Homo sapiens: one gene and its partners. The protein of the gene in region 3 purifies or fractionates together with the protein of the main gene of each other region. This does not show direct contact. Each region holds a gene or a part of one and is shown on either strand. Other genes may lie near its edges. The genes, in order: DHX40, MTO1, IARS2 and DDX11.

Region 1 (7,025 bases), on a different chromosome or scaffold from region 3:
TTAAGTGCATAATAATCCGCTACTATCACTACTTATTTTGATGCTTAAAGTGTCTCATATTTGATTACTTGGGGCCTCTTCATGCTGGCTCCTATGTTCTTCTGACGTGGCCTCAACCTTTGTTAATCACTTCTTTACTTGCTGGCAAAATAAGATATTCTGGGCTCATCTTGCATTTTCCCAGCCCCATTTCTCCAAAGACCCCTGACTCCTTTAAGTGGCAGATGGATGTCCCAAGTCAAGATCTGGGCACTATGTCTATTCATTGTTATTATCTCAGAGCTAGGGCATATATACATATAAATATTTACATACATACAAATACATTCTATATACACACACTAACATCTATTTTTATTCCAGTGTCCATCCATGCATCCATCTATAATGAAACCCATAACTTCATCATGATACACTGAAATTTCAATCCAACAGCACAGAGATCATTCCTATTTTCTCACTTTCGCTATTTCTAACTCCCTTCACCATTATCACTCACAGAGTTATGTGTTCAATTCCTCTGTATTTAATGAATCTCCATCACCATCACTGTTACCCCTTTCTCTATAAAGATGCCTTCCTCACTACACTCTGACTGATGCCCCAAACCAAATAACCCCTCCCCACCTTGCTCAAGCCCTAGCACTCCATGCCAAGCTACCCTTCCTCAGGGATGCTATGCTCAACCTACTTGGCTTTCACACTATACACAGGGCCACCTCTCTGAAAGAAAACTCTTGTTACTTGCCTTAAGTGAAGATAACCCATGCTGGACAGCCACCCTACAAACATACCCCTCCTACCCTACTTGAGCTCTAATACCACATTCTGAGCCACTGCAGCTCTCCCTCGTCACTGTAGCTCTCCCTCGTCACTGTAATTCATGTCATAATCATCACAGAGCTTAAATCAAATCTTCAATGTTTAATATTAAATAGTCCAATATTATAGTCAAATACAGTATTATATCTTGATCCATCTCTCAAGTCTTTATTGCTTACCTTCGAGCTACATTTTTGAAATAGCCCGCACAAAGACATCTTCGTAGTACTTCATGTTTAGGGCCTTCAAAGGTCTCTTTTGGGAAATCACTTTGCTATAAAAAGAATATGTAGAGAGTGGTAAATCTCATAGTACAATTTGAAATAATCTTTTATTTTGAAAAATCCACATTTCTAAAGACCTCTGTTTCTGGCCAACATAGATTAAGAGAGACCAGATTTACCCTTCCACCTGAAACCAAAAAAATGGAAAAAATACATGAAATAATGATTTCCAAAACACTGTAATATCAGGCAATAAAGGACAGAGACAGGAAATAAACGCAGTACGCCCAACAACTGCCCCAACTTCAGCCTTGATAAAGACTGCAGACCAAGGTACAGGGAAGTAAAGCCCAAATGGAACTCAGAGAACTCCCTGGGTTAGGGAGAGAAAGCTGGGAGTCCAGGAAGACCAAGGTGGCTAGAATTCACAGGACAAGAGTTCAGGAGAGAAGAGAAGTGCACAAAGACACAACTCCAGAGAGATGCAGAAGGTCCTCCTCAAGTGTTGAGCTGAGTAGTGATTAGCACATGAATGTGAGGAAACTACCAGCCCAAGAAAAGAACCTCTTAAAAGGATAAGTAAGGGCATGGTGTTTTCACAGGGCTAGTAATGGCGCCTGTTCCTATAAGCCACATGAGAATACTACACTACAGTAATTCATGTGATGTTAGGAAGAGTACTCAGATGGGCCTTGCCTCAGTAGAGGGGAATAACTAGCCCTGCACTGAGCACTGCTCTGATCCCACCTAACAAATCATGCAAGCAAGACCCAACAAGAAAGACCAAAGACCATTTCCAAGTAACTAGAACACAAAAATATCCAGCACCCAACAAGGTGAAATTCACAATGTTTGGCATCCGCTGAAAAATTATCAGGTATGATGTAAAGAAGCAAAAAAACACAATCCATAATGAGGACATCTATCAAAATCAACCTAGAACTGACACAGATCTAATTATATTTTATTATAATTTTCTGTATAGCTGGATTACATATGTTCAAAAAGTAGAGACCTGAAAAATAAAATGTAAAAATTTAAAGACTGAAATCCAACATCTAGAGATGAAAATACAACACCTGAGATGACAAATATACTAGATGGGATTAATGGCAGATTAGACTAGACACTGCAGGAGAAAAGATTAATGAACTTTAAGATAAGGCAAACAGAAAACACTCATAACGAAACAGAGAAATTATAACAGTGGTTTCCAGAGGCTGGAGAAAGAAGATAATGGGTAGGTTTTTTTGTTTTTGTTTTGAGTCAGGGTCTTACTCTGTCACCCAGGCTGCAGTGAAGTTGTGTGATCACAGCTCACTGTAGCCTGGATCTCCTAGGCTCAAGCAATCCTCTACCTCACCCTGCTGAGTAACTGACACTACAGGTGTGTGCCACAACGCCTGGCTAATTTTTTTTTTTTTTTTTTAGTAGAGACAAGGTCTCACTGTGTTGCCCAGGCTGGTCTCAAACTTGCTGGGCTCAAGTGATCCCCACACTACGGCTTCCCAAAGTGCTAGGATTATAGGCGTGAGCTACCATGCACTGTCGGGAATGGGGAGTTATTGTTGAATGGTTATGGAGTTTTATTATAGTATGGGATGATAAAAAAAAGTTCTGGAGATGGAGAAGTGGTAAGGGCTGCACAACATTGTAAATGTTTTAAGTGTGCAGTGACCTGTACGCATAAAAACAGTAAAAAAAAAAAAAAAAAAAAATTTTTTTGAGACAGGGTGCTGCTGCTCTGTTGCCCAGGCTAGAGTGTAGTGGCATCATACCTCACTGCAACCTCAAACTCCTGGACTCAAGTAATCCTTCTGCCTCAGCCTCCTGAGTAGCTAGCACTACAGGTGTGTGCCAACACAACAAGCTAATTATTTTAATTTTTTTGTAGAGACAGGGTCTCACTGTTTCTCAGGCTGGTCTTGAACTCCTGGCCTCAAGTGGTCCTCCCACTTCGTCCTCCCAAAGCATTGGGATTACAGGGGTTAATCATCAATGCCCAGTAGAGGTAAATTTTATATTAATTATTTTACCAAAATAAGATATATAAATTGAAAAACTAATAATCATGAGGAGTAAAAGATGCCAGACCAAAAAAAAAAGAGCATATACTGTTTGATTCCATTTATGTAAAATGCTAGGAAATGCAAACTTATATACAGTAAGTCTTCAATGTCAATGATAAGTTCTTAAAAACTGCAAAGTTAAGCAAAATTTTTAAGATTTTTTTTTTTCTCTCATCAGTGTTAAAACAATGGTGAATAAAACAATATTTTTCTAGGGCCTGCTGTATATCATTTTGCTTAAACTCACAGTTTCCAAGAACCTACTGATGACATTAAGTGAGGACTTACTGTATCATGACAGAAAGCAGATTAGTGGTTACCTGGGTTGGTGGGGCAGGAGGGCCTAGTAGGTGAGACAATGGATTATGAAAGGGAATGAGGACAGGTGCAGTGGCTCATGCCTGTAATTCCAGCACTTTGGAAGGCCGAGGCAGGTGGATCACTTGAGGTCAGGAGTTTGAGACCAGCCTGGCCAACACGGCAAAACCCCATCTCTACTAAAACTACAAAAATTAGCCGGGTGTGGTGACGCAAGCCTGTAATCCCAGCTACTTGGGAGGCTGAGGCAGAAGAATTGCTTAAACCTGGGAGGTGGAGATTGCAGTGAGCCGAGATCACGCCACTGCACTTCAGCCTGGGTGACAGAGTGAGACTCCATCTCAAAAAAAAAAAAAGGTGGGGGGGAGGATGAGAAAACTGGGAGATGATGGATATGTACCATTATCTTGATAGTTGTTTTACGCAAATGTCAAAACTCATCAAAGTGTATACATTAAATATGTGTAGGTTATCACACGTCAATTATATATCAGGAAAGCAATTTTTAAATATCTTCATTTCTGTGAAGACAATTCTTTTATCACTACTAGGAATGTTTCATGGGGTCAAGGAGGTCATAGAAACAAATAGAATGGAAGGGTGGTAGAATAGAAAGGGTGCTAATGTACATCAATGAAACTTCAATATGAAATATATAGGTCCAAAATGCTACTCAAGAAAAAAAACATTACGGCAATCACCTGTTTAAGCTTCCTGATTAGTTCTCGAAGTTGAGCTTCCACACGAAATGCAGAAAATAAGCACCTCCAATGAATCCAGTGTTTTTGGCACCATGAAGCTGGAGCTCCACTGCAAAACAAAAAACTGGTATCTTTAAAATATCTTCTCTAAGTAAAAGACAATCTAAAATTCTCATTTCTATTACAAAAGTGGAAACCCATAAACAACTGTCAGTTCCTTCAGGAGACCTGTCCAAGTACTAAAAAAGAATTTTAGGAAACTTGAAAAAAACATTTAAATTAATGAATGTGCCCCTGACTAAATTAAAAAATAATTTGTAAATGGATTTCTTTACTTATATATGCAATAACAAATATCCAATCATTTTTTAATCTAGGCTACCTATATAGAAGCAAAATTCTATAAGGTCATTTTCAGTAAAGGTTTGAGGAGAAAAGAAGAGAATCAATGTTATATAATAAATGCCTACTAAGCAATAGTCATCTGACATAGATAATTTCACTGAAATTCAAAATACCTTGAAGTCAATATCATCTTCACTGAACGTTAGTGTCACAAGCCACATCATAAGTACGTATTGGAACTATACATCAAATTGACATTTTTCAGGACAAAGGACTACCTTACATACCTTGATTTGCATTGTTCAAAGATGACAGCTAAAGTTGCAAAGTCATTAAATCCTCCAGCTTTAGCTGCCAATTCTCGATGTCTCTGTTCTGCTTCCTTCTGGTACTCTGGATCAACTAAAAGAATTGGAGAGGCAATTCAGTTATACTTTGCATTAAGTGCCTACAATCACTTTGCTTTCAGAAACTCATTAAAATCTGCCTCATCCTCTGGGGTGAAGTAAGGTAGAACTATATTAACTCTTCTTAACTTCTCTTAGGAAGCTCTATTTCTCCCACAATTCCTTTTTTTCTTTTCATATCACTTTGGAGATTTTACCTGAATAGCAACATTACTTCTCCCAATCTATTTGCCTTTTAAAAATAGTATTTGTAATTTACTTTTTAAATTAGTTTTGTTATAAGAGTAATCCATGCTTACAGAAAAAAAAATGTAATGGTATAAAAGAATATCATGTAAAAGTTCAATGTTCCCCAGTCACACTACCCATAAACCAATCCTCAAGACAAAGTACTGTTCATTATTTAGTGTGTGTCCTTCCAGGTAATTTCTATGTATATATAAGCATATGTACATAGTGTTTCATTTTTCTATAAATGGAATATATAATCTGAAAATTTGTTTATTTAATAACAACTCCATATCAGTACATATAGAATTATTCTTTCTCAAAAATAGCAATATAGGGCCAGGTGTGGTAGCTCACACCTGTAATCCCAGCAATTTCAAAGGCCAAGGCAAGTGGATCAATTGAGCCCAGGAGGTCAAGACAAGCCTAGGCAACAAAGCAAGATCCTGTCTCTACAAAATATACAAAAATTAGCCAGGCATGGTGATGCATGCCTGTAGTCCCAGCTACTCAGGAGGCTGAGGTGGGAAGATCGCTTGAGCCCAGGAGGTTTTTTTTTTTTTTTTTTTGAGACGGAGTCTCGCTCTATCGCCCAGACTGGAGTGTAGTGGCGCGATCTCGGCTCACTGCAAGCTCCGCCTCCCGGGTTCACACCATTCTCCTGCCTCAGCCTCCCGAGTAGCTGGGACTACAGGCGCCCGCCACCGCGCCCGGCTAATTTTTTGTATTTTTAGTAGAGACGGGGTTTCACATGTTAGCCAGGATGGTCTCGATCTCCTGACCTTGTGATCTGCCCGTCTCGGCCTCCCAAAGTGCTGGGATTACAGGCATAAGCCACCGTGCCCGGCCCAAGCCCAGGAGGTTGAGGCTACAGTGAGCCGTGATCGCATCACTGCACTTTGGCCTGGGCAACAGAGTGAAACCTTGTCTAAAGAAAAAAACAATGATATGGTATTCCCCAGGAGTATGGGGAACATAACACAATTTAACCAGTTCTTATTTATCCAATTCCCAATTATGGGCAATTAGACATGATCTCCATATATGCAGAACTGACCTACTACGAACATTTTCTTTTTTAATGTAATATTGAAGTATAATATGCATACAGAAAATTACACAGGACGTAAGTGTGTAGCTCATATAATATTCACAAACACAACATACCAATGTACCCAGATCAACAAACAGTATCACCAGCATCTCAACAGCCCCCTTTTATGCCCTCCTTCGAGTAACTACCCATTCCCTTCCACAAGAATAACTATATCCTGACTTCTAATCCTACAGATGGGTTTTGCCCATTTTTAACCTTTGTATAAATGAATCGTATAGTATGTACTTGATGTGTCTGTTTTCTCTTGCTCAACATTACGTTTTTGAGATTTATCTGTTAATTACTTCGATACCACTTCCCCTGATCCCATTCAGGACTCATGTGCTCTCTGATTGCCCAAATTCCCCATACAGCACTTTATCCAGGGCTAATCTTTCAGAGTGCCATTTTTTCAAAACTGCATAGGGATCCTTTCCTTCAATCTAACACGTCACATCACAATTCCTATTCCCTATACCTATCACAGCTAGATCTAGCAGAGGCACAATGTTGCCTGAATCCAGGGAGCAGCATTTACTATAGAATACGATGTGAATCTGCAAAGCAGCAGTTCCTGTTACTAGGAGGAAAGTAATTTGATTAAAGAAAACACTGATGAAGGTATAAAGTCTTCTATCCCATGCTTTAAGTAGCTTCCAACTATGTTACCTAGGTAGCAACTGAATGAAGCAGCTAGAGACAAAAAAATAAAAAAGAATATGATTTATCTCAGACCATACAAACATACAAATGACCCTGGTAAGGAAAAGATATAAATGATTATTAATCTCCATTTCTTGAACTGCTCCGGGAGA
Region 2 (7,146 bases), on a different chromosome or scaffold from region 3:
ATCAGTTTCTAAAGTCCCCTTAAGTCACTGGTGGTTTCTTTAACCAGAAGCTGCAAGCAACAATCCACTGGGCCAGATCAAATATCTCTACTATTGGCCTACCAAAGGAGGAGAACTCATTCTTTATTCAACCTTTCTGCAGCAATCAGTGTCCAAATCACAGAGAAAATGACTGTTTAGTTGAGTCTTGATGTGGAACTTGGATTTTATCTAGTAGGAAACCCCAGGAAATTTATTTGTGGGTATATATTTTATCTAGTTGACTTTACCACTTCTTTTTTTTTTTTTTTTCTGAGACAGCATCTCACTCTGCCACCCAAGCTGGAGTGCAGCAGTGCAATGTCAGCTCATTGCAGCAATTCGTACCTCAGCCTCCCAAGTAGCTGGGATTACAGGCACACGCCACCACCCTGGCTAATTTTTGTATTTTTAGTAGAGATGAGGTTTCACCATGCTGTCCAGGCTGGTCTTGAACTCCTGGCTTCAAGTGATATGCCCACACTGGCTTCCCAAAATGCTGGGATTACATCTTACTCTGTATGCCTCATGTTTATCTCTAGTCAGCCTTGGGTATGAGAACATCTGGTAGAGCCTACCTCAGTCATAAGCCCAGAAAGTGATCTCCCTGTGACTTTGGAGCCTTGACCTATCTATAACCTGTCCACAGCCTTCTAGACAGAGAAACTAAAATTCCCACCTTGCCTGCATACAGCTGCCTGGGCCAGAGAATCATACCCCAGAAGCTGATCCTTTTGCAAGCCCCTCTGTGAAGCCCACCTGTGGCCCAGGAGGTCTACACAGAGCTGCTTCTTCCTCTGTAAACCCCCCACTTTGCACTGCACATGCTTTCTAAAGGCTTTCTGTACTTGAGATATGAACGCCTTCCCACTTTAATTTTTGGATACTTTCCCTCATCCCTAAGGTATCATCTAGAGTTTCCTTATGTCTTATTGTTATTTTTTTTGGATAGAAAAGTGTTCATGATTATTAAGTAAAGAATAGATTACAAAACAATGCACACACTATGATCTAATTTTTATTAAAAAATATTTAACCGAAGTTGCAGAAAGCGAAAAAAAAAATTTAAAGAAAAAAATATCAAAAATAGGCTGGGAGCAGGGCTCACACCTGTAATCCCAGCACTTTGGGAGGCTTTAGGCCAGGAGTTCAAGACCAACCTGGGCAACATAGTGAGACACTCCCTCCCTCAACCCCATGTCTACAAACAAACAAACAAAAAACAACAACAAAGAAACCAAATTAGCCAGGCCTAGTGTCCACCCACATCTGTGGTCCCAGCTATTTGGGAGATGGAGGTGGGAGGATCACTTGAGCCCAGGAGGCGGAGGTTGCAGTGAGCCATGATAGCGCCACTGCACTCCAGCCTGGGCAACAGAAGGAGATCCTATTAAAAAAAAATAAAGAAAAGAAATAATGTTTACTGTTTTTTGTTTTAAGGGTTTTTGTTTTGTTTTTTTGAGACAGGGTCTCAGTCACCCAGGCTTGAGTGCAATGGCACCATCTGGGCTCACTGCAACCTGTGCCTCCTGGGTTCAAGCAATTCTCCTGCCTCAGCCTCCTGAGTAGCTGGGACTGCAGGCACGCAGCACCATGCCAGGTTAATTTTTCTATTTTTAGTAGAGATAGAGTTTCGCCATATTGGCCAGGCTGGTCTCAAACTCCTGGTGGACTCAAGTGATCCGCCACCTTGGCCTCCCAAAGTGTTGGGATTACAGGTGTGAGCCACCACTCCCGGCCTATGTATTTAATACTTTTTATAATTAGAACAATAAAACTGCCACACTGTAGGGAGACCCCTGAAACTATTGCTACGGAATAAAAGATGAAATGCTCCTGATTATTGTAAATACAAAGTTGCATGCAGGATTGTGTAAAGAGAATGCCAGGTTGGACTGCCAGAATGAGCCAACAGCGGGTGATGTGCTTCCCCCTGCAGAGAGCCTATGAACGGACGTGCATCACCAAGATTCCTATCCCAGAAAAGCAGATGTTCATAGCTCTGGGAATGGAATGCAACCCTTGTGGAAAGCCTCTAAACGGACGCATGAGGGGCGCCTGTCCCTGTGGGTAAGATAGGGCTATAAATGCCCTCATCTTGCCACGGCTCTTCTAGGCCTTTTTAGGGTTAAGGCATACTCCCTTCTGAGAATTTCTGGTCTAACTGATTGTCTAGCTTCACATCCTGTTTCTATGGATTGTTTGTAACCAGCTTTTGCTGCAACTGTTACTGCTGATTAATATCTTGCTAATCATAGGTTATGGAAAGACTGTTTCTGTTTTAAGGCTCTGTTAGAAATTACTGATGCACACAATATATTGTAAATTCTTATCTCTGTATACTGTACTTCTGCATACAGATGTTATGTTAAAGAATTACTTCATCCCCATGTGACCATCTCACCTCATAATCAAATGACCCTAAATCCCTCACTAACCTACCCCTGCCCTCACTAAACTTAATAATAAATGCTGGTATATCCAGTGTATTAGCAGCATTGCAGGACCAGAAGGCAGTGACCCCCCTGGACCCAGCTTTCAATATCTTCTGTGTGTCTATTATTTCTCGACCTGCCAATCCGCCTGGGAACAAAGAAAGAGCCCCATTGCATTGTGGGCTGCTGGCCAGATCCTGCAATACCACACTTGTTTTATTCTCCAGTCAAACGTTGCCTTTCTGAGAAAGGCTGTGAATTGAGAAAGGCTGTGAATTCCAAAAGGCTGGACATTTAACCTCCAACCAACCGATTCTTCTAATTAACCAATTAGCCATCATGAATCTCTCTCTCTCTTTTTTTTTTTTTTGAGACAGAGTCTCACTCTTGTCGCCAGGCTGGAGTGCAGTGGCACGATCTCGGCTCACTGCAACCTCTGCCTACGGGTTCAAGCAATTCTCCTGCCTCAGCCGCCCAAGTAGCTGGGACTACAGGTGCATGCCACCACACCTGGCTAATTTTTTTTTTTGTATTTTAGTACAGACGGGGTTTCACCATGTTGCCCAGATTGGTCTCGAACTCCTGAGCTCAGGCAATCTGCCCCCTTCGGCCTTCCAAAGTGCTAGGATTACAGGCGTGATCCACCATGCCCAGGCACCATCATGAATCTTTCAGTCCACAAATATATTTGAACTCCTTTCGAATCTATTCTTTTTCTTTTCTTTTTCTTTTTTTTTTTTTGAGACGGAGTCTTGCTCTGTCGCCCAGGCTGGAGTGCAGTGGCACAATCTTGGTTCACTGCAACCTCGGCCTCCCAGGTTCAAGCGATTCTCCTGCCTCAGTCTCCTGAGTAGCTGGGATTACAGGTGCATGCCACCACTCCCGGCTAATTTTTTTTTTTTTTTTTTTTTTTTTTTTTTTTAGTAGCGATGGGGTTTCACCATGTTGACCAGGATGGTCTCCATCTCCTGACCTTGTGATCCACCTGCTTCGGCCTCCCAGAGTGCTGGGAATACAGGCGTGAGCCACCGCGCCCGGCCCGAATCTATTCTTATTTTCAGCCCTTAGTTTTTATAGACAAACAGAAGGTGACGGTGTATCAGATTGTCAGATCACAAAGATCTGATAAGGCAAAGTGATCAAATTCATTGATCGTAGGTGGCCACCTGGCGATAAGGACTGCAGGGCCTAAGAAAGTACAAAAGATGACCTTTAGTAGGAGCTCCCAACCCAGAACCACAGGAAATCAAAAAAAGCCCGCACGGGCGGATCACGAGGTCAGGAAATCGAGAACATCCTGGCTAATACGGTGAAACCCAGTCTCTACTAAAAATACAAAAAATTAGCCGGGCGTAGTGGCGGGCGCCTGTAGCCCCAGCTACTCGGAGGCTAAGGCAGGAGAATGGCGCGAACCCGGGAGGGGGAGCTTGCAGTGAGCCGAAATCGCGCCACTGCATTCCAGCCTGGGCAACAGAGCGAGACTCTGTCTCAAAATAAATAAATAAATAAATAAATAAATAAATAAATAAATAAATAAATAAATAAATAAATAAAAATAAAAAATAATAATAATAAAAAAAGCCCGCACGAACTAGGAAAGAAAATACACAACCGGCCCTCCGTGCGATCACCCATCTCCCTCACCAGGAAAGTAGCTCCAAACCGCCAATCAGCGGCGACGCTGGACGTAGACGTCCTACCCCGTGATATTAAAGCAAGATGGCCGCGCCCTGCAGATTGTCTCTTGTTGCGTAAGTTTTTTTGACCGTCACTCGTGTCAGCTTCAAAGTCAGATAGATTTTTCTCCCAGCATGTTCTACTTCCGAGGCTGTGGCCGTTGGGTCGCGGTTTCCTTCACCAAGCAGCAATTTCCGTTGGCACGGTTGAGCAGTGACAGCGCGGCGCCCCGGACTCCGCACTTCGACGTGATAGTCATTGGTGGAGGACATGCCGGGACTGAGGCAGCCACCGCCGCCGCTCGGTGCGGCTCTCGGACTCTGCTCCTCACTCACCGCGTGGACACGATCGGTGAGGAGCGCGGGTGCTGTGGAACTTGGCGTAGGACGCAGGCTGCTTCCTTCCCGCCTCCCCCGGTCTGAAGCGGGGGACCTCTTCCTTTCCTCAAAGCTAGTGAGAATCCTACCTTCTGTGGTTTTAGCCTCGATCAGTGTCTCGCAAGGATCAGGCGGGCCAGGCCAGAACTCTATATTAGTCTATTCTGCGAACCATAGATTATGCTGCTGCTGACAGTCGTCCGTTGTAGGAGGTTGGGGTTCGGGGTCAGTGCCTTGGGAAAGGGAGCTACCAACTACTCGCTGGTAGCTTCTTAGTTCATTGCTGCGTTTACCTTCTACTATGTTACTCCAGATAAAGGGTGAATTAACATTATTAACAATGGTTTATGGCCAGGTGCAGTGGCTCACTTCTTTAATCCCAGCACTTTGGGATGCCAAGGCAGGTGGATCACCTGAGGTCAGGAGTTTGAGACCAGCTTGGCCAACACGGCGAAACCCCGTCTCTACTAAAAATACAAAAATTAGCCGGGCATGGTGGCGGGCGCCTATAATCCCAGCTACTCGGGAGTCTGAGGCAGGAGAATCGCTTGAACCCGGGGGCAGAGGTTGCAGTGAGCCGAGATTGCGCCACTTCACTCCAGCCTGGGCAAAAGAGCAAAACTCCGTCTCAAAATAATGATAATATTAATAAAATAAAAAAATCCTTTATTAAACGGTTCTTGTGTTTTTATTTAAAAACATTTTTTTAGAGACAGGGTCTCGCCATGTTGCCCAGGCTGGAGTGCAGTGACTACTCATAGGCACGATCGTTGCACATTACAGGCTCCGCTTTCTGGACTCAAGAACTTTTCCTGCCTCTGCCTAACCAGTAGCTGGGATTGCAGGTGCTCAGTACTCTGCCCAGCCTGATCTTTGTGTTTCTGTCAAGATTTTGTGATGCCTTTTGGAAGAACCATGCTACCTTTTTTTTTTTTTTTTCTTTTGAGACAGAGTCTTGCACTGTCACACAGGCTCAAGTGCAGTGGCGCCATCTCGGCTCACTGCAAGCTCCGCCTTCCGGGTTAATGCCATTCTCCTGCCTCAGCCTCCCGAGTAGCTGGGATTACAGGCACCCACCACCACGCCCGGCTAATTTTTTTTTTCTTTGTATTTTTAGTAGAGTCGGGGTTTCACCATGTTAGCCAGGATGGTCTCGATCTCCTGACCTTGTGATCCGCCCGCCTCGGCCTCCCAAAATGCTGGGATTACAGGCATGAGCCACCGTGCCCAGCGCCATGCTACCTTTTGCATCCTATATTCCTTCTGGGTTGTCGTCCCTGGATTTTGTGTTTAGTACTGGACAGTACTTTTTTTGCTCTAATGGGTAATGGTTGGATGGCCGTTCTGTAGCATCATGATAGATACTAGCTAAAACATCAACTTGTAAATTATGTATACTTTTGTCTTTCCTCCTTCCTTTTGCTTAGGAGCGAGCAGTAATTAGAATATTTACTTGTTTTGTAAAAGTTGTGAATAAATCACTTATTTATTCCTGAAATTCTTCTTTAAAATAACCATTCAGCTCATAACTGTGAAGAAATATATACTATTAACTGCGGTTTTGTGGGTGGGGGAGAGGAGGCTATATGATTTCCTAAAAGATTATACTTTTCTCATCATACATTCAGGTGGGTTTTTTCTTTTCTTTTCTTTCATTTTTGAGACAGAGTTTTGCTGTTGTTGACCAGGCTAGAATGCAGTGGCGCGATCTTGGCTCACTGCAACCTCCACCTCCCGGGTTCAAGCGATTTCCTGCCTCAGCCTCCCAAGTGGCTGGGATTAGAGGAGTCTGCCACCACGCCCAGCTAATTTTTTGTATTTTTAGTAGAGATGGGGTTTCATCATGTTGGCCAGGCTGGTCTCCAACTCCTGACTTCAGGTGATCCACCCGTGTCAGCCTCCCAAAGTGCTGGGATTACAGGTGTGAGCCACCACACCTGGCCTGTTGTTTATATTTTTAAAAAATAAAGACCTAGTGCTTGCTTTGGCAACAACATAAACTAAAGTTGGAATGATATAGGGATTAGCATAGCCCCTGCACAAGGATGATGCACAAATTTGTGAAGTGTTCCATATTTTTAAAAAATAATAATAAAATAAAGACCTAGGCCAGGGGTGATTACTCACGCTTGTAATCCCAGCATTTGGGGAGCCCAGGAGTCTTCTATTTCAAAGGAAGAAGGAGGAAAATAATCTACCACAGCTGTCATTCCTGTTTTTACAGTAGAGAGACTAAGGTATGTTAGGTAACTTGCCATGATCACAGAGCTCATAAGTGGTAGGTCTAGAAATTGAGCCAGATATCTCTTTCACACACACTCCTCATAATGACACTTCATGCTCATAATCACAGTGCTATCCAGTCTCCCTGTGGAGACCATTAAAACTTGTGGAGGTCTTGTCTGGGCATGGTGGCTCATGCCTGTAATCCCAGCAGTTTGGGAGGCAAAGGCGGGCAAATCACCTGATGTCGGAAGTTCGAGACCAGCCTGACCAACATGGAGGAACCCTGTCTCTATTAAAAATAGAAAATTAAACACCCAAGAATGATCAATAAATACTAAAAAAAAAAAAAAAAAGAAAGAAAATTAGCCAGGCGTGGTGGCGTATGCCTGTAATCCCAGCTACTTGGGAGGCTG
Region 3 (7,025 bases):
ACATTTACCTTGTTTGCCAAATCCTGCAGTAAGTGTAGCATGTACTGGTCTATGACATACATATCGTTTACAGGGATGGAATCTGTTTCTGGGTTGAAATCAGCCACATTTCCCAAAAGAAAGCGAAGTGTATTCCTAAGCTATTCATAGGAAGAAAAAATATGCAGTTAAAAAAATCTAATGGTGCCTTCAATTTTCACTGAAAAGTTATTTTATTACTAACTCTTGTCATTTTCTTAGTGGGGTATTTTTATTATCATTCCAAATAAGACTACAAATGTAAAAAAATAAAAAACAAAAAGTACACAACAAACTCTTATTCCAATAGCCCAGTTATAGGAACAACCACTGGATTTTACGCCTAACGACTGAATTTTCATTATATTTCTTTATTACGTTGGGGCAAATCACCTTTCAGTAGCCCAGTTTATTCATGTGTGTGGGTCAGAATAATGTTATTTCACTTGCTTCACAATGAAATAAAGATACATGGAAAAATGTGAAAGGTTATTGAGTACATAAAAGTATACAAAATTAATATAATCTATACTATGCTATATTACATTTTATATATTAATAAAATATAAAGGATATTATATACAAATTATATAAAATTACTGGTATTACTACCAATGTTTTGAAACAAATAAATTTACACAGGAGTTTTTTGTTTTTTTTGAGACAAGGTCTTGCTCTGTCGCCAGGCTGGAGTCCAGTGGCGCGATCTCGGCTCACTGCAACCTCCGCCTCCTGCGTTCAAGTGATTCTCCTGCCTCAGCCTCCCGAACAGCTGGGACTACAGGTGCATGCCACCATGCCCAGCTAATTTTTGTATTTTTAGTAGAGACAGGGTTTCACTATGTTGGCCAGGCTAGTCTCGAACTCCTGACCTCGTGATCCACCTGCCTCTGCCTCCAAAAGTGCTGGGATTACAGGCATGAGCCACCATGCCTGGCCAACACAGGAGATTCTTAAAATCTCACAATAAATGAAGAACTCGTTTTCATTCAGTTTTTTTCAGTTCCAAACAAAATGTGTCTCATTTTTTAAAACAATGATTTGACAAACTTGTCCTTTAGAAATAGGAAGAATAATAGTTCTAACCTTGCTAATATCATCTCTGGCAGCATTGAGCACGGATGGGCCAATTGCAACTTCGGTGAAGACATTGGAATCAGCTACCCACCAGCGAAGGACATCAGCACCATACGGAGGCTCTTTGCTTTGATCCTTTTCATTGAGAAAAAAATATATAAACACAATGGCTTTCAATTCCAATTAGCCGAACAAATGTTTTAGGTAAAGCTCCTATTCAGATATTTTTGAGCACAATGTAAGTACAAACTATACTAGCACTGTAATGAAATGCGGGCTAACAATCTCAAATTAGACTGTATCTAAAAACAAAACTGGAAAAAGAAAGAGCGTGCTCTGCAATCTTGTTCAATGCACAAATGCTCATACCTAATCTCTTCCCTGGTCATGTCTGTTTCCTCTATTACAGCTGGTGGTTAGACACACAGCAGTGCCAGGGAGGTCTCTATAATAAGGGAGGGGAAGAGGAAGGACTGCTTTTCCTTTCACTATTTCCTAGCAACTCTGTACACAAAACAATGAACGGTTACAGGATGTTAGGCGGGCAGTAAAAAGCTACAGGAGTTAAAAAATAGAAAAAAACAGACAAATGATTTAATTCACAAAAGCAGCTCCAAAAACCCCCCCAAATTATCAGCAACCTCAGATTTGATGTACATTTAGGACCTGCTTTAAAGTGTATAATTTTCAACAATATAATAATGAAATGCGCATTTTGAAGTTGCAATCTCATTTTTCATCATTTCCATTTAACTACACAATCACACTTTACATATTCTTTTTTCACTTCAGACAGCAATGTGCCAACACTGTAACAAGGTTTGAGGGAGGCACACCTCACACAATAGTGCGAAAACCCAATCATCACGCTTACGAATCACAAAAGGATCTACACATTTTAAAGGCTCTCAGACAATTAAAAAAGAAACAGCGTGGTTTGGGACCTAACTGGAGAGTCAGGCCTGAAATAAGTTAAAAGGACCACAATCCCAGCCTCTGCCTTCTTCATTACAATCATGTGTTATTTGAGAGTATAAAAGATAGTTTTTATTTTTACATTGAAGTAACTATATTAAGGGCTTTGGCTGCCAATTTAAGATCCTTAAAACGAAAATAAAATACATTTTAGAGAATCACCTACTTGTCCTCCATTAACGACAACATCAGGATGAATGACATTCCCAAGAGACTTGGACATCTTTTCTCCCTTTTCTCCAAGGGTAAATCCATGAACAATCACTGTCCTAAAGGGACAAATCAGCTATTTTAATGATAAACACAATTATAATTATCTTTTTGAAGATTAGGTACAGCTTAAAAAGAGTATCTAAGTTTGACACAAAAATATGATTTTTCTTGACTGATTATGAATAAAACCTTTTCTTTTCTTTTCTTCTCTTTTTTTTTTTTTTTTTTTTGAGATGGAGTCTCACTCTTGTTGCCCAGGCTGCAGTGCAGTGGCATGATGTCGGCTCACTGCAACCTCTGCCTTCCAGGTTCAAGGGATTCTCCTACCTACGCCTGACCTCAGGGGATCCACCTAACTCGGCCTCCCAAAGTGCTGGAATTACAGGTATGAGCCACCCTGCCCGGCCGAAACCTTTCCTTAAAAGTCAAATTCGGCTGGGTGCAGTGGCTCACGCCTGTAATCCCAACACTCTGGGAGGCCAAGGCAGGCAGATCACTTGAGGCCAGGAGCTCGAGGCCAGCCTGGCCAACATGGTGAAACCCTGTCTCCACTAAAAATACAAAAATTAGCTGGGTATAGTGGTGTGTGCCAGTAGTCCCAGATACTTGGGAGGCTGAGGCATGAGAATCACTTGAACCCAAGAGGCGGAGATTGCAGTGAGCTGAGATCGTTCCACTGCACTCCAGCCTGGGAGACAGAGTAAGACTCCATCTCAAACAAAAAAAGTCATTCTTAGCTCATGTATCACAATAGTCAAACAGTTAACTCTCGACTTACACAAAGGAAAACTTTAGATATTTTCATCACTAAACAGATTATTTTCTGAGCTTCTGCTATGTACTGATTTTATCATTAAAACTAACCAGGTTAGAAAGAGCAAACTACAGAGACAGCAAGGAGATCAGTGGTTGCCAGGGGCCCTGGGGTGGGAGTGGAGATTAGTCACAAATGGGCATGAGAAAACTTTTTAGTGTGTTGGAAATGTTATAAAACCTCTTGTGGTGATAGCGGAAAAACTATATAACTCACTAAAAAAAAAAAAAAAAAAAAATTTTAAATGAAAAAATAAAACCAGGAAAAAGTATGTCTTAAAAAGAGCAGATTATCATCTCAAAATTATTTTCAAAAGACAATTTGAAAAAAATAGGATCTGCCCTTTTACTGGTCTTTAAAACGCATGTTAAGAAACAAAAACATGTAAAAGGGCCAGGCGTGGGGGCTCACGCCTGTAATCCCAGCACTTTGGGAGGCTCAGGAGGGTGAATCCCTTGAGAGCAGGAGTTTGAGACCAGCCTCACCAACATGGTGAAATCCCGTCTCTATTAAAAGTACAAAAATTAGCCGGGCATGGTGGCATGCTCCGTAATTCCAGCTACTCGAGAGGCTGAGGCAGGAGAATCGCTTGAACCCGGGAGACAGAGGCTGCAGTGAGCCAAGATCGCACCACTGCACTCCAGCCTAGGCAATAGAACAAGACTCCATCTCAAAAAAAAAAGAAACATGTGAAATGTTCTGGGATGGGTTTTTATCCTAAGAGAGCCACAATCTTAAGCTAAGCTATTTAGGAATCTTTCTGATTAGTACTTTCACCCACACGTTTGAAAAAGTAATTATGTGTACTAAATGAGAATACCTAATTTAATAAAATTCATGAAAGCAATGTTTCAGTTCACTAGCCACTGTGGATATTACAAATATAAAGGACATCTGCACTCAGGCTGTCTTCTCTCAACCTTGAATATCCTTCCCTACATTCCTCCTAGTCAAGTTTTACCATAGATCAAGATCTAGTTCTAGGCCAGGCATGGTGGCTCACGCCTATAATCCTACCACTTTGGGAGGCCAAGGCAGGAGGACTGCTTCAGGCCAGGAGTTTGGGACCAGCATGGGCAATGGGAGGAGAACGCACCTCTAAAAAAAAATTAAAAATTAGCCAGGTGTGGTGGTGCATGTCTGTAATCCCAGCTACTCAGGAGGCTGAAGCAGGAGGATTGCTTGAGCCAAGGAGACGGAGGCTGCAGCGAGCTCTGACCACACCATTGCACTCCAGCCTGGGTGACTGAATGCGATCCTTTTTCAAAAAAAAAAAAAAAAACAACAACAACAAAGAACTACATAAGTTCCCCCAACTACTCCAGTCAATGCTGACTTTTTCTTCAAAGAGTTATGATCTGCATCACACTCACAAGACACCTTGGTGTTGTCTCCTTTTTCCTTTCTCTTTTTTTACTTCAAATTCTTACAGGACACTGTAAGCAATCAAGAGTGGTGCCTTATCATCTCTGTAGTACTCAGCATAGTGCTTCACACACTGGCAGGTACTCAGCAGGTTGGTTCAGGCATAAATACTTACTTATAAGGTGCTCTCTTCCTTGCTGCCACACTTGTTAATAAGGATGACTGAAACCAACCCCCGAGCTGGTCTTTTCCTTCCAAGTACAAATCTGCTCTTTGGTCAGGACCTCAAAATTAAGTATTAAAAGAAAAAAAAACCCAGAAATTTAAGTTAATTAAAATAGAAAAAGAAGATACTTATTAATAACAATTAGTGGGGAGGAAGGGAAGTAACTTTACAATAGAGAAAACTGACAGATGCCACCTTAACCAAGAAAGTGACCAAAGTTACACATCACCAGTAGTAATGGGACAGAGATGTATCACGTGACTTCTGAAATGATGTACTGAAATAAACACAGTATCCTTTCTGTGATATTCCTACCTAAAATGCATAACGTGGATCTAATCATGACAATGCATCCCACAAACCCAGAGAGACCATCTACAAAATAAACCTGTACTGCATGAATGTCAAGCAATGTCATGAAATGTCATGAAAGACACAGAACAAGAACTAGAGAGACATGACAGTTAAATGTGACATGTGATCTCAGATTAGATCTTGGGTCCTTTTTTTTTTTTCCTCTTTCCACCTAGGAATAAGTTCTATAGACAGTTAACAGTATGGAATCAATGTTAATTCCCTAATTTTGATATCTGTGTTGGTTATGTTAAGAGACTATCCATGTTTTGGGGAAATATATACTAAAATATTGAGATAAAAGATGCATCTTTTCCTCTACATATATATACATAGGATATATAAAGCAACTGTAGCAAAATGTTAATGTTAACGTTGGGAAATCTAGATGAAGAGCATGCTGTAATTCTTCATGATACTTTATGACTTTTCAAAATAAAAGGGTTTTCAAAAAAAAGTAACATGAGGTCGTTGATAAAGATTACATCTATATTTTAAATCTAAACTCACAACTCTCAAAGCCCCCATAATCCCTTTTATTTGTAAAATTATGATTTGTCCTTATGTCCTAAGACTGAAAATTTAGTGTTGTAATCTTCATGTAAGAAAGATTAACTGAGTGGAGGTGGGGAAACAAAATTTAAATAACTGAATCAAACCAATTCAATTGCACCAATATTACTGAGCACTTGTTATATAGCAGGCATTGTGTTAGACCCTGGGGAAATCTGGACTCTGCCTTCTTGGAGCTGACACCTAGTAGGGTAGATTTTATGTTAAGCAAGAAATAACTGTGATGGGGCCGGGTGCAGTGTCTCGTGCCTGTAACCCCAGCCCTTTGAGAGGTGGAGGCTGGCAAATCCTGAGGTCAGGAGTTCGAGACCAGGTTGACCAACATGGCGAAACCCCATCTCTAAAAACACGAAAATTATCTGGGCACGGTGGTGGGCGCCTGTAATCCCAGCTACTTGGGAGGCTGAAGCAGGAGAATCACTTGAACCTGGGAGGTGGAGGTTACAGTGGGCAGAGATTGTGCCACTGCACTCTAGCCTGGGCGACAGAGTAAGAATCTGTCTCAAAAAAAAAAAAGAAAAGAAATAACTGTGATGGGTGTTACCAAGGGGAAAATAAAGAGTTTAATCTAGTCTGTGCAGCCAGGAAAGTCTGAGATAATGTAAGAAGGTAAATGCATATGCAGTGAAAACAAATCTTTAGCTAGACTAAGAAAATAGAAAAGAAGATCCAAATAAACAAAATCAGAAATGAAAAAGGAGACATGGGGCTGGGTGCGGTGGCTCACGCCTGTAAAATCCCAGAACTTTGGGAGGCAAAGGCGGGTGGATCACGAGGTCAGGAGTTCAAGACCAGCCTGGCCAAGATGGTGAAACCCCATCTCTACTAAAAACGCAAACATTAGCCAGGCATGGTGGCGGGCACCTGTAACCCCAGCTACTTGGGAGGAATGAGGCAGAGAACTGCTTGAACCTGGGAGGTGGAGTTTGCAGTGAGATGAGATCAGGCCACTGCACTCCAGTCTGGGCAACAGAGCAAGACTCCATCTCAAAAAAAAAAAAAAAAAAGAGAGAGAAAGGTGACATACAACAGACAACAGAGAAATACAAAGGATCATCACAGACTACTATAAACAAATGTACACTAACACATAGGAAAACCTGGAGGAAATGGATAAACCCCTGGACACATACAACCTACCAAGATTAAACCGGGAAGAAATAGAACAGTAAGGAGTAACCGGACTGAATAAGTAACAAAAAATCTCCCAACAAAGAAAAGTCTAGGACCAGATGGCTTTACTGCTGAATTCTACCAAATATATAAAGAACAACAATTCTGCTCAAACTACTCCAGAGCATCGAAGAGGAGGAAACTCTTCTTAAATCACTGTACAAAGCCAGCATTACCCTGATACCAAAACCAGGCAAAGACACAACAAAAAAGAAAACTACAGGCCAGTATCTCTGT
Region 4 (7,025 bases), on a different chromosome or scaffold from region 3:
ACCCAGCCCCTGCACCAGTGCGCTCCTCGATTCCCTAAAGAGGCTTCCAGAGAAAACAGCAGCACATATCAATAAAAAACTCAGCAGAAACCAACAGCACACTTTTATTTAAGGACCTATAGCTGTGCAGGATGCAAACATCTGGGCATCAGTGACTTTCCTCCTGCCCCCGTTTGTCCCTGATGGTGGCAGAAGATCCCAGCTGACCACAGCCCCTTTCTCTGGGGTCAGAGGGAGAAGACAGGCGCAGTCAGCAGGGGCAGCTGTTGCAGGTGGGAGGGATATTTTCCCACAGGAACAAAGGTCTCCGTGATGACACGGGGTCTCTATAGTCATGTTGAGAGCCTAACGGCCCTTGGCATAATTGCTGGTGTTGGGGTAGAAGGTGTCTTGGAGTTTGCTCAAGTGGTTGAGAGGGAGGGAGGTGCCATAGACTTGGAGGAACTGGCACGAAGCCAAGGATACAAATCCAGGCAGGGCTGTGGGACAGGATAGGGAGCAGGGCCTTCTACTGAAGGAGTGACTCAGGAAGGAGGAGGGGAAGGTGACAAGCCCCTGGGCAGGAGCCCTGTGGCCATGGATCATTTTAAATTGAGACCAGAGAGTGAGCAGTCCAGGGCAGCTATAACCTTGGCTAGAAAGGGCAGAGGCAGATGGGCCTGCTCCATCTCGCCTCTTAAGAAGGTGGGCAGGACGGAGATGCCACAGTGGATGCCACAGCTGCCACAGCCTCCTGCGGAGACCAGGAAGGAAGCCTGGCTCTCAGCCATGCAGGATGGAAAGAAAGATTCTATTCCAGGAGGGGAGCTGCCCTGGAACGCCCCAAGGACAGCCAGGACCCACTGTTCATTCAGGATTCCCCCATTTTCTCCTACGGGAGCTAACGCCTGTGCCTGGGTCCTGGCAGCACTCTGGACTCCACACTCTCCTCCTGGGTTTCACCTTTGTAACAGGATCCCCGCAGACCACGCCCACGACAAACACTGTCTCCAGCGGGCAGGACAAAGGAAGGGCACGGCGCCAGGCAGTGGTGTGGTTGCCCATCAGGAAGAGGCCGACTTCTCCCGGTGAAACTGGGCAGACAGAAGGCAGTGAGAAATGTGATCTCGGGGTGGGGAGGCTCTCAGAAAGAAAAAGGTAGGACTGACCTTCTGCACAGCAGCAATGGCGGGGCCAAAGGTAGCTTTGACCTCCACACGGGCTCGGATCCAGGCCGGCAGCTTGGCCAGGACAGGGGGCCGGGCATATCGCTGGTCCAGGAGCACTACGCTGGCAAAATCCTTCTGGTGCCTGATGGCCCTGCCTGCATAGGAACAGAGGCTGGGGCTCCGAGCAACACCTGCCTCCCCCCTACAGCACATTCCCACGGCGACCCCCTCCCCTTCCTCAGACTTATATAGGAAACAGGGCAGGCAACCCCTCTTTCCTGTTCTCCCTTTCTCCAGCCCCCATCTGTCCACCCAGCTGGAGGCAGCCAGGCTCACCTATGGACTGGTTGACGGCCTTCATGCACAGGTTCTCCACCAGAGCCTTCCCTGGGGGTGCCTGGCCGGGGGCTCTGGGCTGGGAGTGAAGGGGAAGACCCATCAGGACTGTTCCCTGCCTGCAGCTCCCCCTGGGAAAAGACCCTGCCAGGCTTTGGAGCCAGACCAGGAGGCTTCGTGGCCAATGCCAGCAGCAGGGGTCCAGGTGACATCACAGGGAAGATCAAGAGGGTGTGGAGGGGCATCCAAGCTTCCGGAGGGGGCAGGAGACGCCAGCGCAGCGGGGAAGGCCTGGCTGTATCAGCCCTGGGGGTGATGCCACTCCCACCCACTGCCTACTCTCCTGTCACCCTCTGTGACACTGGGGTCACTCACGAGGGTTTGATCCAAGTAGGCCATCTTCTCCTGCAGCTCTGCAGACCTGATGTTGGGGAAGGGCATGCCCACCATCACCACACACCTGGGCGGGGGAGACAAGAGCCCAGCAGGTGGACGTCAGGACCTCCCGGGTCATCACCCACGTCACCAGCTGCTCCGTTCTACCCCTTCCCTCAGCCTCTCCGACTGTGATCAAAACTCAGCCTCTCTCCACTCTGTACCTACCACCTGGAGAGGGCTTGTTCGGCTGAGAGATCCCGTCTAGGCCAATTGACTGGGTCCTGATACAGCAATGGGTAGCCTAAAATCCAACTGCTCTCCCAGGACCAAACCCAGAGCTGCTGAGCCCCTCCCTCCAGCTGGCTGGTCTGAGCAGTCGCAGCCCAGCTGTGGGCTCTAATGGCAGCAGAGAGCAGGCAGGGGCCCAGCTGCTGGGAGTGAGGGCCGGCCATGTATCACGGCCCAGGAGACGAGCAGAACCACTACTTACCGGCCTAGGTTGTCAGAGAAGTTGATCCCTTCACTCATCTTTCCTCCAACCACAGAGAGGAGCAGGGCCCCTGTCACCTGGCCTCTCTCCTGGCCACAGGCCTGTAGGAGAAACCCAGACGCTGAGTTGCTGAGCCAAAACTTGGATGACACCCACAACGTTTCCAGCTGCCACCCCCACACGATCTCAGACCCAAGCCCAGCATGACGCCCGCACCTGGATGCACCTGGAATATGCCAGCAGCACCTGCTCCACCTGGTGTGCGCTCTTAGGTTCCTGGAATATCTGAGAAAGACAGAGGACATTTCCCAGAGACAGGTTCAGGGTGCCAGGTCTCGAGTCTGCTCGTGGCCTTGTGTTTTCTGGCCAGGGGACTGGAGAACCTCACAGCCAGGGACTTTGGGGGAAATCCTCTGTAGTCAGGGACTGGGAGCGGTGGGGATGAGGAGCCAGAAGCCTGTCCTGACCCGATGAGCACGAGAGCTCCCAGGAGGACTCAGTGGCACTGTCCTCACAAGTGGGAAGGCTGCCGACAGGCCACTCACCTTCTTCCTGGCAGCCAGACGGCCCAGCAGGCCACCCTTCTCCCAGTGGGCATGGACCTGGCGCAGGTACTCGTAGGAGGGGAAGAAACAGACCACCCCTCCAGGAACCACACCGCACAGGTTACAGAGAATGCGACCCACCTCGTCCATCTAAGGAAGGAAAGGAGGGAGGGAGGGAGCCCCCATGGAGCAACCCCTCAGCCACCCACAAACCGCGTCTTCACCTTGAGACTCAAAACTGAGGAGAGACCCTCGGCAGGACTACAGCCAAGGAAGAGGACTTGGCTCCCCTGGGTGGGAACCACGGGGTGGTAGGTGCCACCTCCCACCAAACACACCCAGCCGCTGCTGCTGACTGCGCCTTTCTGACACATGTCACAGCACTAGCGTCCCTAGGGGGCCTCCCTATTGCCCTGGCACTGAGTCCTCCCTTCTTCTGTCCAGGGTCCTGATGGGCACCACAACGACAATCAGGGGCTGCACACCCCAGGCACACCACAGGAGATGCCCCCAAGCCCCACATCCCTACCCCCGGCAGGGGCAGATATAACCAAAGGGCAAGAGAGCCAAAGGGAACTAGCAGCTTTCTCCTGTGTGAGGCGTCCTCAGAGGATGCCTGGAGGTTTTATGAATACATATTTCGCAGCCTAAGGCGTGAGGGGCGGGGAAGCTCAGACCTTCCTCCATAAGCATCTAGATCGACGCCGCTCATTCTGTGTGGCTCTAAGCGGGTGTCCCTGTGCAATTTCCCCAACACTGAAAACACTCAGGGTGGGCCAGAGCGCCCCTGCCCCAGAAAACCCTTTGCTGCCTGAGGCCAGGCTGTGGTGCGGCGAGCTGGCTGGGACTGACCATCTGAGGCAGCTCTCTTTTCTGGAACGTGAATTCCAGCGGCTGGTTGGAGATCCCGCTGCAGATGACGAGGGGCAGGATGTTGTCTGGAGGGATCACGTGACCTGGTAAGAGCCAGGGAGGGGCCGAAAACTGGAGATGCAGGTGTGCTGCAAGACACTGCAGAGAGGGCATTTCCCTGCCCCATCATCCAGCACAGGAACAGCGACTGACAGCGCTCACCCGCCCACCATCACCAGTCACACTGGGCAGCAGGCAGCAGGGAGCAAAGCAGGAGAGCCTGGGCGAGCGCACGAAGGGTGAGGCTCCCACCCCGGGGTCTCCTCCGCCCCTGTGCCTGGTCGCAGTATGAGGTATTACCCACAGAAAACGGGGGCCAGAACCTGACCTCTAGCCTGCCCCACCCTGGGCACAGCTTCTCACCACAGGAAAACTCCACCACGCGCTCAGCTTCCACCCCGGCACAGGCCAGCAGCTGCTGCCGGAAGTCAGACACCTGTAGACCAAGGCCACAGCGTCACGGCCCCATGACCCCTCAGAGGCCCAGCAGAAAGGAAGCGAGAAGTCTGGGCTAAGAGACAGCAAGTACACACAAACTGAAAGAAGAGGTCAAAGAAAAGGCTGATGGCAAACTAACAAAAAGAAAAATGGTGACTGATACCCAGTGCTGGCAGTCTCGTTTAAACTATGTGCAGGAACAGCAAAGGAAATCCAGCAAATCTGGCACAGTCATTATCAACCCTGGCCATGCAGCAAAATCACCAGCGAAAATTTTCAAAAATACACATGGCCAGGCCCCAGCCCAAACTACTGAATAAGAATCTCCAGGCTTTCACCTGTTAGACTGGCAAAAATCCAAAAGTAACCACTCTGGAGAAACAGGCATTCCTAGACAGTACTGGTGGGATACAGAATGGTACAATTCTCATGAAATTTCACAGTAGTTAACAAATTAAACATATTTATACTTTTTAACCCAGGAATCCCATATTTAGGAGTCCAGTGAGAAGATACAGCCCACAAATACCAAACAGCATGTGCCCCCGGACCTTTCCCTGTAATCATGCGCCTGCCTATCCAGAGGGTACTGGTTGGATAAGCTCCCTACATCTGTCCAACAGAGAACCACGCAGCCCACTAGAGGAGCGATGGTCAGACAACTGACTAAGATGCCTTCTGTGTAAATAAAACAGGAAAGGGAAAAATGAAGACACGTTTTTGCTTATTTAGGGGAAAAAGAAAGACTGAAAGGATAAGCTAGTAAAACGGATTCCCTATGGGGGTGGGGAATGGGCTGGAAAGGGATGAGAGTGAGGCTTTCCTGAATAGATCTTTTTATATTGCTTTGACTTTTGAGCCATACAAATATTTACATATTTAAAAACTACAAGTCAGAAAAGAAAAAAGCAAATTCTAAAATTGAAAAGAAAATGAAACAAAAACAGCCTAGTTATCTATGAAACTGACAACAGAAGCACACGGAGAGAAGCCTGGTTCCACGTGACTTTAGAGCCTAGTGACCAGGCATCCTTAGTGGGTTACACTCTAAAGGCAAAGAGGAAAGGCAATTTCAATCAGATCTATTGTTAGAAGTAATATTGGTACTATGATTTCAAAACTTTTAAGTATATTATAGGATAGAGCAGATAAGTATGTTAATGTAGCACACATGTTCAGGCTTAAGAGAAAAAGAGGTACAATAAAAGGTCAAGTAAACAAATCCTTTGATTTTTACTTAGAAACACCAATATGGGCCAGGCGTGGTGGCTCATGCCTGTAATCCCAGCTCTTTGGGATGCCAAGGCTGGCGGATCACCTGATTTCAAGACCAGCCTGGCCAACATGGTAAAACCCCATCTCTACTAAAATACAAAAATTAGCTGGGTGTGGTGGCACATGCCTGTAATCACAGCTACTCAGGAGGTTGAGGCATGAGAATCGCTTGAACCCCGGAGGCAGAGGTTGCAGAGAGCCGTGATCAGGTCACTGCGCTCCAGCCTGGGAGACAGAGCGAGACTGTGTCTCAAAAAAAAAAAAAAAAAAAAAGAAAGAAAGAAAGAAATACCAGTATGGATTCATTCTGAAAACATTTCCTAGATCTGTCTACCAAAACGCCCCAGGAGCACGACAAACACCCTAGCACCCACAGCTTGACTTCTAAATGTCATTCCCCATTACAAGAAACCAGAGCAGCTTGGAGAAATGAATCAATCCAGTGTGGGGAAAGGACACCCATGGTGATCCCATGACATTCTGCTGTGCTGGAGGCGAGACTGACCGGGCCACGGGGAGGACCTGAGCTAGCAGGAAGGGGCTCTCACAATGTGAACGTCAGAAACAATAATTACTGTAAACAACTTTTAATATGCCGAATGAATAAAACTATGAATCTATCCATACAAAAATATAAAAATCAAAAGCTAAGGCAGCTGGGGCTGGGAAGCACTGCTTCAGGATTCCCAGCAGCTTTTTGTCCAGGAGGCCCTTCGCTAGGTAGGAGTCACCACTGTGCAGAAATGCGGTTATATTTATCACAGTCATGCTCAAAACAGAAAACTGCAAATAGCTTGCACACCTAACAAGAGAGAAGCAGCTACATGAAATGCTATATATCTGTGTAACTGGAATCCAGCACAGCTGGGATACTGAAATACGTGCATGCTTGCTGACAAGGAGACAGGGTTTATGACCCTCTGGCTGCTGAGTGAAAAGAGCAAGTTCCAGTGACAGCACATGGAGGGAGCCGTACTTTTGTTTTTAAAACAGCTATGCACATAAGTAAAAATTACGCCTACAAAGACTATTATATTCATATACATCAAAATGAACCTTTTAAAAGTGGAATCATGATTTTTTTCCTTGAGTTTGAAACCACAGAACAGCTTTCTCTGGGAGACATGTGATCCTGGGGCTACAGAATGGAGCAGCAGAGGAGTCTCCACTGCTCCTGCAGCCTAAAAGGCACAGCAGTGAGAGAATAGCAGTGTCACCCAGCGGACACCACTGGGCCTGCTCGAGCTGACCCTTTCTGGCTTGGGGCCCCAGGAGAGAACAGGACTGATAATGCATCTCTCCCAAGCCCCCATCTCATCCCAACACCTGGGGCACGAGGGGCTGGGAAAGGTGTCCTTACCGGCTGCATGGTACCCCCCGCAATGACCACTGCCCGGCATTCCTTCACCACTTGGGCAAAGTGCACAGCTGGATTCAGGAGCAAAAACTTCAGGGTGCTCTGACTGAGGCTGCCTGGAAAAACAGATCGGTGGGAGGTGAGTG

The links.
Region 1: the proteins of IARS2 (region 3) and DHX40 purify together in Homo sapiens (affinity purification with mass spectrometry; 2 studies listed by BioGRID and IntAct, with this or other methods). This does not show direct contact.
Region 2: the proteins of IARS2 (region 3) and MTO1 purify together in Homo sapiens (affinity purification with mass spectrometry; 2 studies listed by BioGRID and IntAct, with this or other methods). This does not show direct contact.
Region 4: the proteins of IARS2 (region 3) and DDX11 purify together in Homo sapiens (affinity purification with mass spectrometry; 2 studies listed by BioGRID and IntAct, with this or other methods). This does not show direct contact.

What each region holds. Positions count from the first base shown.
Region 1 is NC_000017.11:59,596,593-59,603,617, reverse strand, and holds part of DHX40 (probable ATP-dependent RNA helicase DHX40), read right to left. Parts: intron 4,882-7,025; coding exon 4,767-4,881; intron 4,244-4,766; coding exon 4,135-4,243; intron 1,097-4,134; coding exon 1,002-1,096; intron 1-1,001. UniProt on the Homo sapiens protein: Probable ATP-dependent RNA helicase.
Region 2 is NC_000006.12:73,457,591-73,464,736, forward strand, and holds the start of MTO1 (5-taurinomethyluridine-[tRNA] synthase subunit MTO1, mitochondrial), read left to right. Parts: upstream 1-4,146; 5' UTR 4,147-4,264; coding exon 4,265-4,481; intron 4,482-7,146. UniProt on the Homo sapiens protein: Component of the GTPBP3-MTO1 complex that catalyzes the 5-taurinomethyluridine (taum(5)U) modification at the 34th wobble position (U34) of mitochondrial tRNAs (mt-tRNAs), which plays a role in mt-tRNA decoding and mitochondrial translation.
Region 3 is NC_000001.11:220,132,123-220,139,147, reverse strand, and holds part of IARS2 (isoleucine--tRNA ligase, mitochondrial precursor), read right to left. Parts: intron 4,747-7,025; coding exon 4,638-4,746; intron 2,340-4,637; coding exon 2,237-2,339; intron 1,985-2,236; exon of another isoform or gene 1,882-1,984; intron 1,231-1,881; coding exon 1,105-1,230; intron 141-1,104; coding exon 9-140; intron 1-8.
Region 4 is NC_000012.12:31,097,855-31,104,879, reverse strand, and holds the end of DDX11 (ATP-dependent DNA helicase DDX11), read right to left. Parts: intron 6,996-7,025; coding exon 6,883-6,995; intron 6,704-6,882; coding exon of another isoform or gene 6,579-6,703; intron 4,321-6,578; coding exon of another isoform or gene 4,285-4,320; exon of another isoform or gene 4,246-4,284; coding exon 4,173-4,245; intron 3,909-4,172; coding exon of another isoform or gene 3,854-3,908; coding exon 3,750-3,853; intron 3,048-3,749; coding exon 2,898-3,047; intron 2,638-2,897; coding exon 2,569-2,637; intron 2,454-2,568; coding exon 2,353-2,453; intron 1,945-2,352; coding exon 1,860-1,944; intron 1,564-1,859; coding exon 1,485-1,563; intron 1,304-1,484; coding exon 1,149-1,303; coding exon of another isoform or gene 1,074-1,148; coding exon 1,044-1,073; coding exon of another isoform or gene 847-1,043; 3' UTR 81-846; downstream 1-80. UniProt on the Homo sapiens protein: DNA-dependent ATPase and ATP-dependent DNA helicase that participates in various functions in genomic stability, including DNA replication, DNA repair and heterochromatin organization as well as in ribosomal RNA synthesis.